Linked DNA regions of Homo sapiens. The protein of the gene in region 2 purifies or fractionates together with the protein of the main gene of each other region. This does not show direct contact. Each region holds a gene or a part of one and is shown on either strand. Other genes may lie near its edges.

The links.
Region 1: the proteins of SLC22A8 (region 2) and DNAJC10 purify together in Homo sapiens (affinity purification with mass spectrometry; one large-scale study listed by BioGRID and IntAct). This does not show direct contact.
Region 3: the proteins of SLC22A8 (region 2) and SLC25A46 purify together in Homo sapiens (affinity purification with mass spectrometry; one large-scale study listed by BioGRID and IntAct). This does not show direct contact.
Region 4: the proteins of SLC22A8 (region 2) and TVP23C purify together in Homo sapiens (affinity purification with mass spectrometry, with the first as the bait; one large-scale study listed by BioGRID). This does not show direct contact.

The regions. Positions count from the first base shown.
Region 1 is NC_000002.12:182,722,757-182,726,256, reverse strand, and holds part of DNAJC10 (dnaJ homolog subfamily C member 10 isoform 1 precursor), read right to left. Parts: intron 1-3,500. UniProt on the Homo sapiens protein: Endoplasmic reticulum disulfide reductase involved both in the correct folding of proteins and degradation of misfolded proteins.
Region 2 is NC_000011.10:63,005,842-63,009,341, forward strand, and holds part of SLC22A8 (organic anion transporter 3), read right to left. Parts: intron 1-3,500. UniProt on the Homo sapiens protein: Functions as an organic anion/dicarboxylate exchanger that couples organic anion uptake indirectly to the sodium gradient.
Region 3 is NC_000005.10:110,745,507-110,749,006, reverse strand, and holds part of SLC25A46 (mitochondrial outer membrane protein SLC25A46), read right to left. Parts: intron 2,739-3,500; coding exon 2,661-2,738; intron 845-2,660; coding exon 744-844; intron 1-743. UniProt on the Homo sapiens protein: Transmembrane protein of the mitochondrial outer membrane that controls mitochondrial organization.
Region 4 is NC_000017.11:15,560,684-15,564,766, reverse strand, and holds the start of TVP23C (Golgi apparatus membrane protein TVP23 homolog C), read left to right. Parts: upstream 1-1,283; 5' UTR 1,284-1,318; coding exon 1,319-1,330; intron 1,331-4,083. Other genes in the region: TVP23C-CDRT4 (uncharacterized protein LOC100533496), read left to right, coding at 1,319-1,330.

The sequences.
Region 1 (3,500 bases), on a different chromosome or scaffold from region 2:
AATTCAGTCACATAATCAGGCTCCACTTCTAATTCCAGTTCTCTTGCTATTTCTATCACATCTACAGTTACATCCTCCATTGAAGCCTTGAACACCTCAAAGTCATCCATGAAGGTTGGAATGAACTTCTTCCCAACTCCTGTAACACTGATATTTTGACCTCCTTCCATGAATCACAGATGTTCTTAATGACACTAGAATGGTGACTCCTTTCCAGAAGGTTTCCAATTTACTTTGCCTGGATCCATCAGAGGAATCACTACCTATGGCAGGTAGAGCCTTATGAAATGTATTTCTTAGATAATATGACTTGAAGTTGAAATTACTCCTTGATTTACGGGCTGCAGAATGGATATGGTGTTAGCAGGCATGAAAAAAAAGTCCCAGATAGCATCTTCTTCCAATGGAAGGCTGTCTCATTAACATTGAGAATTTGTTGTTTAGTATAGCCACCTTCATCAATGATCTTAGCTAGATCTTCTGGAAAACTTGCTGCAGCTTCTATGTCGGGACTTGCTGCTTCATCTTGTATTTTGATGTTATGGAGATGGCTGTTTTCTTTAAACCTCATGAACCAACCTTTTCTAGCTTCAAACTTTTTTCTGCAGCTTCTTCATCTCTCTAAGCCTCCATAAAATTGAAAAGAATTAGGGTCTTTCTCTGGTTAGGCTTTCGCTAAGGGGATGTTGTAGATAATTTGATCTACCCAGACCACTAAGACATTCTCTATGTTAGCAGTATGGCTGTTTTGTGTTATCATTAGTGTGTTCACTGGAGTAGCACGTTTACTTTCCATGAAGAACTTTTCCTTTGCATTTATAATTTAACTAGCAAAAGAGGTCTACCTTTTAGCCTGTCTTGGGTTTTGATATGCCTCCCTCACTAAGCTTAATCATTTCTAGCTTCTGATTTAAAATGAGAGATGTGCATCTCTTCCACTTCAACACTTAAGAGGTCACTGTAGTTATTAATTGGCTTAATTTCAGTAATGTTGTATCTCAGGGAGTAGGGAGGCCCAAGAAGTGGGAGAGAAAAGGGAGAAGGAAGAGGGAGCAGTCAGAATAGACACAAAAATTAAGTATGCCATCCTATGGGCACACTCCAAAATGATTACAATAGTAACATCAAAGATCACTGACTGTAGATCACTGTAACAGACAGAATAATAATGAAAAAGTTTGGATACCAAAATGTGAGAAAGAGACATGAAATGAGCACATGCTATTGGAAACACGTTCAGCTGATAGACTCGCTTGATGTAGGGTTGCTAAAAACCTTCAATTTGTTAAGGAAAAAAAAGTGCATTATCTATGAAGTGCAATAAATCAAAGTGTAATAAAATGAGGTACACCTGTACTTTGTCTTCATCGAGCACTTCTCATATTTGCCAAGTTCCCACTGATTGCTGAGTAATAAGAATAAAGTTAAAATATTTTAAATACTGTATCATCACAGCTCAATGGGATGTTGTGCCTAACAGTGACCCAGAATAGAATTATTACATTTCAAAATGCAACTTTCCACTTCTAAACTATACAACTACAGCTACTGTCTGTTAATATACATACAACTCCAGTTAACAGCTTCTATTAGCAAAGTAAAATGTAATTACTTTGCCTGTAAGGTACAGATTAACTTTTTCCCCACAGGTCTATCTTATACTTGAAATGTAGGTGAACACTGAGTCCTGTACCTGTTTCTAATTAGCCTGAATTAGTTGCACGTATTTAGAATACCATGCATGTTTTAATGTCTTACTGTAATTTCTGAAATTTTTATTTTAAAATATTAACTAATTTTAACATGGAATCATATGGAAATCCTTTAACCAAAAGCAGATTACCCTCGCCTTTTTATCTTGAATGTGAAAGCACATTTTTACAATGTTAAATTTTTTAAGTGAGTAAAATTTGTAATTTGCATCAGGTCATTTTACAGATAAAATATAAACTGCACTATTGGCTAGATATCACATGTTCAAATCTATAATTTTAGCAAGTATGTATTAATGTTTTGAATTGTTAAAAAAAAGTCAATCTTTTCAAATAAAGTGATTTTCCAAGGTAATGTCTTATTTAGGGCTTATATTAAATTTAATCCCCGCAATCCTTACTGTATTATGTAGGTCTCTTATTTTATTCTTTCAGAGTTTACAGTAGCTGTCAGAATTGATTAAACCTACTTAACCTATGCTGCATATAATAGAAGAGCTTAGAAGGCATTTGCTTGTTGACTTTCTAGAGAGCCAGAAATGATAACATCTGCTTAGCAGAAAAATGCCTGGGAAAGCTTCACTAGAGGGTCCTTCTCTATCACAACAATGCTCCTGCTCATTCCTCTCATCAAGCAAGGTTAATTATTTATGAATTATCTCTGAAGTTTTGTGGCTGCAATTTATCTTGAACTACCATTTGGGGTTCTATATGAACTATTAACAGTTCTTAAGCTTTTCTGCATAGTGACACATCTGAAAAAGTGTGAACCCATATACAATATAACTATCAGTGAAGTCTCATTCTAGGTAGACTCATGGATTAGTAAGCTTGCAAGTTTTGTTCAGTTCCTCTATCTGTAATTCCGATGTTTTCTGAACCATTGGTACACAAAACACTTACTGATATATTAGGAGATGAGAGACAATAAAAACCACACAGGAACAGCTATAGGTTTATATAACTCACACGAGAGTTATGATTCTACCAGCTTGTGACATGAGCATTAATTCTATTAACAATCCAAATGAATCAAATTGTCTTATTTGCAGAACACAGGAAAGATGTATTTTCTATTCACTTAGAACATGTTCAAGTGTTCACCTAGAAGGCTTTTAACAAAGTAACACATTGAACAGCTATTTTGTATGTGAAGCTCACCAGCATGATGTAGAAAATAAGATTAAAATGCCACCCTTGGCCAGATGTGGTGGCTCATGCCTGTAATCCTGGCACTTTGGGAGGCCAACGTGGGTGGATCGCCTGAGGTCAGGAGTTCGAGATCAGCCTGGCCAACATGGTGAAATCCTGTCTCTACTAAAAATACAAATACAAAAATTAACTGGGTGTGGTAGCGGGCACCTGTAATCCCAGCTATTCAGAAGGCTGAGGCAGGAGAATCGCTTGAACCCAGGGGGCAGAGGTTGCAGTGAGCCAAGATCGTGCCACTGCACACTGGTCTGGGTGACAAAGCAAGACTCCGTCTCAAAAAAAAAAAAAAAAAAAAGCCACCCTTGCTTAGAAGGAACAAACTGTATAAAATCAAGTAGCTGTAATAAATTTTTAACGATAATATATGAAAAACATATAGATTTATATGTATTTTTTGCGACTGGTACGCTATTTTAGTTTTCTTTTTTTTTGTGGTGCCATCATGGCTCACTGCAATATCAGCCTCCCAGATTCACGCGATTCTTGTGCGTCAGCCTCCCAAGTAGCTGGGATTACAGGTGCGTGCCACCAGGCACACCTAATTTTTGTATTTTTAGTAGAGAGGGTTTTCCCCAT
Region 2 (3,500 bases):
TAAAATCTGTTGTTCTGAGCCACCCAATTTGTTGTGCTTTGTTATGGTAGCCCTAGGAAACTAATATACGGCACGATTCCTGAATATTTGAAGGAACTGCTGGCTTTATAAGGGGTGATTGGAAGAGGATTGGGACTAGACAAGCATGGCAATGAGGGAACCAGATGTGGAGCAAATGGGAGAGATTTTTAAAGGCATCCTGGAATTTCTGGGAGAGAGGAAGGTATTTAGAGAGAATTTTGGCATGCTTTCTGTGCAAAGACCCTAAGAAGGCCCTTTTAAGAAAACTTAGGCTAGATGTCTTGATTATTACTCAGGGTGTCAAGAGTGTGACTTGTGTTTCCCTTGACTGTGTCTCCATGGTAGTCTGAGCCATGCAAGTCCTTGGATTCCATCAGGTTACACTACAGAAGCTCCATGCTATTGCATTTCTCTTTGCTTTGGTGCTGGTTATGATCCCCTTATTCTAGTAGTGTTGGCAGTCCTTTGAAACTCATGTCAATATCGTCTTTTTGGAGAGCCAGGAACTTCTTTTATGGTCGTCTGGCACAAACAGGTGGTCAATAAGTGTTTGTCAGTTCGATAAATGGATAAGAGTGTCTAGCCGCCCAGGGTAGGTAAGGTGCTCCTCATTTCCCTTTCTTGTTCTTACCTCCAATAGGGCACCTATTACATGGCATTCTAACTGCTTATTCACTTGTTTGCTGTCCTGTATTCTGTAATCTTGCTGAGGACTGAGAATGTCTCATTTGAGTTTTTTTTTTTTTTTTTTTTTTTTTTTTTTGAGACAGAGTCTTGCTCTGTTACTCAGGCTGGAGTACAGTGGTGCAATCTCAGCTCACTGTAACCTCTACCTCCCAGGTTCAAGTGATTCTCCTGCATCAGCCTCCTGAGTAGCTGGGATTATAGGCATGCGCCACCATGCCTGGCTAATTTTTTTTTTTTTTAGTAGAGACAAGATTTCACCATGTTAGCTAGCATGGTTTTGACCTCCTGACCTCATGATCCTCCCGCCTAGGCCTCCCAAAGTGCTGGGATTACAGGCGTGAGCCACCGCGCCCAGCCTTGAGGTTTTATCTCTAATAGCTAGCAGAATAGTTGCTACATAGTATATGTTAATGTTTCCTCAACAAATAATTAATGAGTGAACAGGGCTGGGAGAATTTTGGCATGCTTTCTGTACCAAGACCCTGAGGAGGCCCTGTTAAGAAAACCTATAGCAGATGTCTTGATTATTACTCAAAGTGTTGAGTGTGACTTGTGTTTCCCTGGACTGTGTCTCCATGCATAGGCTGTGCCACTTGGAGTCCTTGGATTTAATTATCCTTATTTTACTGAGGAAGCCCAGAGAGGGAAGAAAGGCAACTTGTTGGTTGAACAGAGCCAGTTACTCAACCTCCTGGTGGTTCTGTTTAGTCCTCGGCATGACCTTGGCTGATCCGTCTCATCAACTTTTGGCAATTCCACATAATGTTCTTGCTCCCAGTATTCTAGTTCAGTGTTCCTTTTTTTCTTACTCTGTCTCCCAGGCTGGAGTACAGTGGTGCGATCTCGGCTCACTGCAACCTCTGCCTCCCAGGTTCATGCGATTCTCCTGTCTCAGCCTCCGGAGTAGCTGGGACTACAGGCACCCACCACCATGCCTGGCTAATTTTTGTATTTTTAGTAGAGACGAGGTTTCACCATGTTGGACTAGGCTGGTCTCAAACTCCTGACCTCAGGTGATCCACCTGCCTCAGCCTCCCAAAATGCTGGGATTACAGGCATAAGCCACTGCGCCTGGCCTAGTTCAGTGTTCTTGACCATCTTTTTCCTTTCTTGGAATGTAGCCGAGCCCCAAGGGAGCTGGGTTCTGGAAGGAAAGGGTAGGAAACTCACTGCCATGCCTTTCTGTATGGGCTGATGCATCAGGAAGGTGGTGGGGAAGAAAGAGAAAAGCACGATGCTCAGGAGAAAGCTTTGCAATTAATGGCGTAATAACCTTATAAAGTAGGTACTATTGTTATCTCTTTTTATAGACAAAGAACCTGAGGCTCAGAGGGTAAGTGGCTTGCTCAAGCATAGCTTAATTCATTTCAAGAAAGAGACTCAAACTCAGGTCTGCTGGACCCAAGATGCTACCCTTGGCCCTGAGCACAGCTCCTTGATGCCTCCCTGCGTGCCGTGCTCTGAGGCCTGGGCTGCTGAAGGAAAGGCACCATACACGGGAGCTGTTACTGTGAGCCACTGTAAGACAGCATAGCCCAGCATAGGCTGGGATTGTGGTCAAGGAGGCAGTCAAGGTCAGAGCCAGATAAGCTGCTCTGACATCATATCCAAAGTGTGAGCAGCAAGAAGTGAGGCTAGGTGGCCCCTGCAGAGCATGAGGCAGAAAGTGGGCTGTAGAGAGTCAGGACGAGCCATTTGTGATCAGGACCATGATCAGCAGGATGGGGCCCTGCTGTGTGTGCGGGGAGCTGGCTGAACCAGGAAACAGCCTGCCTTAGTTCAGGGGCCTTTTGGAGCTAGGTCAGGTCTAGCTTAGGGGAGAATTGCTGCTGCCCATGTGCATTCCTGGATCCCTAGAGGAACCTGTGCTGGGGCAAAAGGACCAGAGAGGATGAGCCAGGTATCTTGGGGACAGTCAAAAAGACATCAGTTTCCAGCTCTGCCACTTAGGAGCTATGTGTTCTGGGGCCAATTACTTAACCTCCGTGTGGCTCAGCCTCTTCATCAGTACCCACAGGTACCTAGTACCTGCTTCTCAGGCTTGTGAATGACATAGGAATGAAAAGCACCCAGCACTTATACCTGGAAAACAATAGGCACTCAATTCACAATAGCTGTCTTATTATTATTGTCACTATTAATGCCATTAAGTCATTGTAAGGCCTGTGCTCACAGGGACAGCTCATGCAGTAGAAAGGGCATGGATTCTGTAGTCAGGACCTCCCAACACCCCCCGTCTTCTGTAAAAGCTTGACCCACCATCATGTCTGGGAAGGCCACCTTCTGGATCTGAGCCCGGTGTATTCCTCTGTAAAATGGGGACAATAGTGCCTGATTTGCAGGGTCACGAGAGAAGGGATGCAAACACCAGCCCAGGTCCCTGCGTACAGTGGGTGCTCACTGGTGAGTTCCTGATCCTGGAGAGCTCACAGGAAGGTCCCACCTCCTCCTGCGCACATAATCAGGGGCTTTCTCGGTCAGGGCTGTCAATAGGGATCAGGCTGGCTTGAAAAGTGGTTTGGGTGGGGCTCTCAGGCCTTTTCCCAGGAGTCAGATTGGAGGCGAGGAAAGAGATGGAGGAGGATGAGCCCCCGGCAGGGCTGAGGGTGGGCAAATGGGGGTGTGAAGCAGAAGTGCTGCTGGAGATGAGAGATGGGCAACTGGGGACTGGGGATTGGGATGAAGGAGGGTCAGAGGCGGCTGACCAGAGACCCGGCAGGGGACCCTCCCAGGGTGGAAGTCTGCTCACAAGAGGCCTCACTGGGCAGCCTCTCTGCTTCTCCAGCAGCTGA
Region 3 (3,500 bases), on a different chromosome or scaffold from region 2:
TAGATCTCCATAAATCTGTCTATACAACTCCATTTATTTTATACTGCCATTTGAATATATCTTGATCAGAACATCTATATATTAAAAAAAGAAACACATTCCAAACCCATAGAGAATAAACTTAAAAAGGCACAATCGTATTTTAATGTAGCACCTCAGCTTCTTTTCCTGATATTCAATTTCATACATACCCAATATTCCAAACATAAGACACTTCTTTTATTACCTAGACTGTCCAACCCCGTGACATTGGACATGTTACCTCTTCTTGCTTACATGTGTCTCCTTCATTAAATGAATACTTAAAGAGCGGGAATTGCTCACATACCCACATTTGTTCCTCAGCTGGCAGTTGCTGGCACATAGCAGTAGAAGCTGAAAGATACATCTCAATAGATACTAAGCCAAGACACATTTTCTTTATCACATACTAATTTAATAATATATAATTAATTTTATTCTTTGTTTTTTCTTTTAGTTACTTCAGACAAGTTTTCAGATTCAAGGTATTTTTTATTTATTATTAAAACAATATAATAGGGGAGGGATGGGGACAAGGGTTGAAAGCTACCTATTGGGTATGATGTTTACACAATTGAGAATTGTTGGATGAGAGGATCATTAGAAGTCCAAACTTTAGCATCACACAATATACCCATGTAACAAGCCTGCACATGTACCGCCTGCATCTAAAAACACATCACCACATGAAACTAATACTGAAGAAATGCTAAAAATGGTACCTTGGCAAAGGTGTAAATTCACTAATTATGCCTTCTGCTCCAAGTGTGACTCCCTGGACAATAAATGTACTTCCCATTCCTTTCCACAGGGCTCTAGGTCCCTAAATTGAACAAAATTCATGTTATTTCTGTTAATACCTACATCTGAAACACAAAAGATCTTAATAAAACTTGATATTGTGTAGACATTTTCCAATAAAACATTATTCTAATAGAAATATTAGTAGAGAACTACAATTAATTTTATATCATTTTAAAGTTATACTTAGGCCAAGAAGAACATTCCTATTAATTAAAACCCCTAATGATTAACTAATTTATTAAATATCCCTAATATCTATATATTCAACTCCCTACTAGTCCTGTCCTGTGGATGACACAAGGTAACTTGAAACTTACATATCCACAACTTAACCCAATCATACTCACTCATACCACACCAATTCTTTCCTTCTCTGCTGTATTTCCTATTTCCCTAGATAGCAGCTTCATCATCCTAGTGTCCAAACAATATATCTAGAAAACATTTTTATCTCACTCTTCCTATCTAATCAGTCCCCAGGTTCTACAAATTCTACTCCCTTAGTATCTTACAAATCCATGCTCTTCTCCATACTTAACACTATTACTTTATATCAATTTGACTACAAGTTTCACTGTCTCTGGTTTTGCCCCTTTGCATGATACCATCAGTAATACTCCTATTATTTATCTATATTATCTATATTATTAATAGATATACATGATAGAATTAAAAAGAAGCAATAGGGTATCAGCTGAAAAGTCTGTCTCCTTTTCATCCCAGTCCTCAGCAGCAGTTTTAAAATTTATCGGGATAATCCATGCATATACAAGTATATCTGTGTGTGTATGTTATAGAAATATTTTTGTTTTGCTTATTTTTAACAGGTAGTATTATCTTGAAACATAAAAAATATCCTGGAGATCATTCCACATTAGTATACACAGAGCTACCCTCTTATTTTTAAAGGTTACAAGGTGTTTCACCATAATATACCATAATTATTTCACTGGTACCCTAGTGATGGACATTTAATCATTTCCAGTCTATTATATGCAATGTCATAGGACATCCTTGTATATATATTTTTGCATATATATGTGCACATCTATGTGGGATAAGTTCCTGGAAGTGAAAGAACATGTACATTTTAAATTTTAATAGATATTGCCAAACAATCCAAAGGTCTTCAAGATATTTTGGTCATGGCTAAAACACCTTCAACAGTACTCTTGTAGCTTTTAAGATCTAGTAGTGTGCAGTTCTTAGAAGGTGCTTTAGAATCTGGATCCTGCTTACTTCTCTGGCTACTTTTTCATCTTTCTCTTACTCTTCAACCCCCACTTCAAGCTCCCATTGTACTCCATTAAATCCATTCCCAAACATTATGATCTCTCTTTGTCTTCTGCCTTCACACGTCTACTTTAAAAACCTTTTCTCTATCCTCATCATGAAGAGTCAGACTTCTCAACAAGAAGCACACAATTCGGGCCTTTCTTTTCCCAAAGTTTTTCCCAGCCATACACTGTGCCCAAGCCCAGTTTTGATAAGGTACTTCTCTTTTGTATTCTGACAGCATTCTGTACTTCTAATATTGCCTTTATCTTACTGCAGCACAATCTTCAAAGATTTTGTCTCCATGAATAAATATGAGCCTCTTGATAGCAGAGACATCATCTTAGCACAGCTCTTTGTGGTTTTGCTAAATTAAATTGTACTTTTGCTAAATTACATTTTGAAAGATTCAAAAACATATCGTTGTGCTACTTTAGTTTTACTACAACAGTTAAGATGTTTTATTGACCAAACTGAAAGTAATTATTCTTGCTTTAATGATTACTAAACCCAAATGACACTTATATAAACCTTTAATAGAATCCAGACAAAATTCTCACCTGAGTTTTGTTGAAACTGTACATAATATTGATGACTGTAAATGGAGTGAGATGGTAATGCTGAGCATGGTAATTAACCTGTAAAAAAGATATTTCATTATTTTTTTCTGTTAATGTTTTGTCAAGAAATAACAGAGCCATGAAAGAAATATGGTGGAATTGCAGTATAAACAAAAGTTAATTCCAAAGTCAACATAAATTACACATAAGCAAAATTACTCTTAAAAGTGCTTTAAATAACCTATTAAAAGTACAGTATGTATGGTTATATAAATACAATCTGAAGACCAATGCATAATACACACAGTACTGTAGACTATATAATAAAGAGGGTCTTATTTGATATTTGGTTTGCCTTAAACAACTGAATTACATCTCCCAACTCATGTTCATTTTAGGCAAGCATTTTTCAAACTGTACTTGGCAACTGACTGGTATATGAAATCAACTGGGGGAGTGTCAAAACAATATTTATTATGTGAAACAATAAAATATTAGAATGTATTACATTCTAATGGTATTATTTCATAAAACATTTAAAAATAATATATTTGTTACTTATATGTAATGTATCCATTGGATCTCCATGTTAATATTACTACAATGTAAAATATATATCTGAAATACACTGTTCTGTGGCACATACAGTCAATGCTACTTTAATGGTATTTCTGTATACATACTTTTCAGTGCTAAGCATGAACAGATTAATTTATAATGATTTATACTGTTTTGAACTCTAACAGCTAACAAATACAGGAAGCATTACTTTACAGAGAAAGTGGGTTATAACAGGACGGGCGCAGTGGCTCACACCTGTAATCCCACCACTTTGGGAGG
Region 4 (4,083 bases), on a different chromosome or scaffold from region 2:
TACTAAAAATACAAAATTAGCTTTAAAAATTAGCTATTAAAAATTAAAAGACGATAATGAATTCAAACACAATGCCTTAAAAAACCAAAAACTACGAAAAACAACACAAAACTCCACAGCACTGAGTGGACCACTGAAAACCTGCCATGGGCAGGCTGGACGTACAGGCCCCAAATTTGTTAGCTTTTCATCTCCAAGGGCACGAATGCAATTGTGCTGCCGAAATGTCTCGCCTTTGAGAAACGCGTGTGTGTGTTTTTCCCCTTTCATTATTAGAATATTAGGTTTTAAATGGCACTGGCAAACAGCCACATAAAATTTGTGATTTTAATAGAATCCCTTCAATTAAGGAAACGTGCAAATACCACTATGCCAACAGCAGTCTGACTCGGCCAGACAGATAGGATATTGTCATCATCACCGCTTCAAAGATGACTTAACGCCCCTTAATTTCACATCCTTTGTTCAGGCAAGATCACAGCATGAGCGGCTGGACTTAAAACTGTAATAAGTATAACGTCTCCCATTTACTAGATACTTACACTGTAAGGAAACCATTATCACCCCCACTTTACAACTGACGAAAGAAGTACATAAAGGTTGGTGATATGATTGGCAATAGAGTTCCCAGGCGCCTAAGCTCCAGGGCGCAAGGTCTCAACTCCTGGAGTCTAAGTTTATACCTCCCATAATAATACCGTCCATTAGTTACTCTAGAGTCCTCCTGCCTTGTTTTTCTTAACGTTTTACTTCTCTGCAAGAACATATTTTAAAAAGTTGCTTCTACAATTTAAAGTACAAAAGTAATACTGTACAGGAGTAAGTCTTTGTAAAATATTTAAAGAAAATTATATTATACAATAAAACCCCGCCCCCCTGCATTCGGGGCAGCGACGCTGGGGGAACGACTTTAGAATTTGCATTGGGTGGACAGCAAATACTTCCGTAAAACAGACCATGAAGCTTTCCACTTGGAGCCCACTGTGGCCCCAATGCCTTTCCCTTTCGCTCCTGCTCCAGGCTCCGCCTCCGCCGTGTCCGGGCTGCTCGCCCCGCCCCCGCTCGCCCCGCCCCCGCTCGCCCCGCCCCCGCTCGCCCCGCCCCCGCTCGCCCCGCCCCCGCTCGCCCCGCCCCCGCTCGCCCCGCCCCCGCTCGCCCCGCCCCTGGATTTGCTCCCTCAAAGCGGAGGTGAGGCCGGACTGAGGCTCTTACAGTGGTCCCTGCTGGCCCTTGGTGACGGGTCGCGTCAGTTCCGACCCGGACCCGTACGCTGCTGCGCTGACGTGGCTCCTGGAAGCAGGGCTGGCGTAGGGCCGCCATGTTGCAGCAGGTGAGGGGCTGAGGGCGCGCTGGGAGGGTGGCGGCTCCTGGGACTGGCTCTGCAGGTTCCGTGGGACTGGAGCCCGCGTCCCCCGCGCCCGCTACTCGAACTCGAGGAGGAGCGGGGCGGCCGGGAGTGGAGGGCTGTGGGTAGTTGTCTGAGGAGGGCTGCTGGGGGTTCTGAGGCCGCTGGGGGAGGCGTGACCCGTGCGGCGCAGAGCAAGTACTTCTTGCGGCTGTGGGGACGCCCATTGTTAACCAGCGCGAGTGGGGGTCTCTCTTTCCTCAACCCTTATTGCCGGGGTGGAGTTGAGGAGGAGCGGCCTGCGGGCCTCTTAGCTTCCTGACACCCAGGGGTGCGATGCTATCTTGTAGGAATCGGCGACACCGCCAGAGCCTCGCTTTCAAATTGCTGTTTCCAAACTAATGTTGTTGGTGATTCTCTCCTTTGTGCTCTTAGAGTTAATTGTAGTCCACATGTTGGCAACCAGAGACTCGTAAGATTAATAATATTTTTAGAAAAAACTACTGTTTATGGTCACTTAGATTGTCTTAAGTGTTTTTTTCTTTCGGTTCACACAAAATTTGTTGAGGGATTACTATGACTCAGACACGGTTGTAGGCCCAGGGATAGGGTTGTGACCAGTACAGACAGGTTTCTTGCCCCGTATTTTCGGGTTAGGGAAGTGGGTTCTAGGAGATGGGGGTTGGGTGGGGAGACACGATAAATTGTATAACCAAAGATATTTTCAGATAATTGCAAAGGCAGGGTGATGAAATAACAAGTGTCCGAGGATAGGACAACTAAGATTTATGGTCAGGAAAGACTGCTTATGAGGAGATGCCTTGAGTGGAGAAAATCTAATAATGGTTAAATTCAGCTGTATTACAGGAAAGGTGTCCCGATCCAGACCCGAAAAGAGGGTCCTTGGCCGGGCGTGGTGACTCAGGCCTGTAATCCCAGCACTTTGGGAGGACGAGGTGGGTGGATCATGAGGTCAAGAGATCGAGACCATCCTGGCCAACTTGGTGAAACCCTGTCTCTACTAAAAATACAAAAATTAGTTGGGCGTGATGATGCACGCCTGTAGTCCCAGCTACTCGGGAGGCTGAGGCAGGAGAATCGCTTGAACTGGGGAGGCCGAGGTTGCAGTGAGCCGCGGGCCACTGCACTCCATCCAGCCTGGCTACAGAGGGAGACTCCGTCTCAAACAAAACAAAAAAAGTCTTGGATCAGGCAAGAAGGAATTCAGGGTGAGTCCACAGTGCAAAGTGAAAGCAAGTTTATTAAGAAAGTAAAGGAATGGCTACTCCATAGAGCAGCCTGGAGGGCTGCTGGTGGCCCATTTTTATGGGTATTTCTTAGTGATATGGTTAATAAGGGGTGGATTATTCATTCCTCCCCTTTTAGATCATAGAGAGTAACTTCCTGATGTTGCCATGGCATTTGTAAACTGGCATGGCGCTGTTGGGAGTCTAGTAGTGAGGACGACCAGTGGTCACTCTCGTGGCCATCTTGGTCTTGGTGGGTTTTGGTTGGCTCCTTTATTGCAACCTGTTTTTTCAGCAAGGTCTTTATGACCTGTATTTTGTGCCGACCTCACATCTCATCCTGTGATTTAGAATGCCCTGTCTGGGAATGCAGCCCAGTAGGTTTCAGCCTCATTTTACCCAGCTCCTATTGAAGATGGAGTTGTTCAGGTTCACATGCTTCTGACATTTGAACCTGCGCCCAGGCCGGATGAGGCTGGAGAAACACAACCATGTTGACTGTTCCCACTATTTATTTATTTATTTATTTATTTATTTATTTATTCATTCATTCATTCATTCATTCATTCATTTATGAGACGGAGTTTCACTCTTGTTGCCCAGGCTGGAGTACAATGGTGTGATCTCGGCTCACTGCAACCTCCGTCTCCCGGCTTCAAGCGATTCTTCTGCCTCACCCTCCAGAGTAGCTGGGATTACAGGCGCCCGCCACCATGCCCGGCTAATTTTTGTATTTTTAGTAGAGATGGGGTTTCACCATATTAACCAGGCTGGTCTTGAGCTCCTGACCTCAGGTTATCCACCCGCCTCGGCCTTCCAAAGTGCTAGGATTACAGGCGTGAGCCGCCAGGCCCGGCCGACTGTTCCCACTTGATAAGTTTGTGATGTGAACCTCAGTCGAGCCCTTAGTGCTGCCAGGCGGTCATTCTACATTTCCATAGCCCCTTCACCCTCTCGCCTTAGGCAACTATTAAAACTCAAATCTTCAACGTTTCTTCTCTTATCCTCTCTCAGCTGGTAACGTTGCTTCTTGTTTCACTGAAAATGGAAGCCGTCGGAAGACAATTTTCACACTAGCTGCCTATTTATTTGCATGTTTACTCAGGGTCTCATATTCTTTTATGATAATTGGACTGTCAGTGCTCCATTCTTAGGTCTTCCTGTCTACTGTGTCCTGGTTTCCATCTCCTCTTGCCTACTGGAAGGCATTGTTCTAGTAATTCTCTTTCTTGCATCATCAGTTTTTTAATCCTTTTAAACGTTTGCTCACATCAACATATAAACGTGTTTTAATTTCTCTTACCTTAAAAAATGAAAACTTGGCCGGGTGCGGTGGCTCACACCTGTAATCCCAGCACTTTGGGAGGCCGAGGCGGGTGGATCACGAGGTCAGGAGATCGAGACCATCCTGGCTAACACGGTGAAACCCCGTCTGTACTGAAAAACAACAAATTAGCCAGGGGTGGTGGTGGGCAGCTGTAGTCCCAGCTA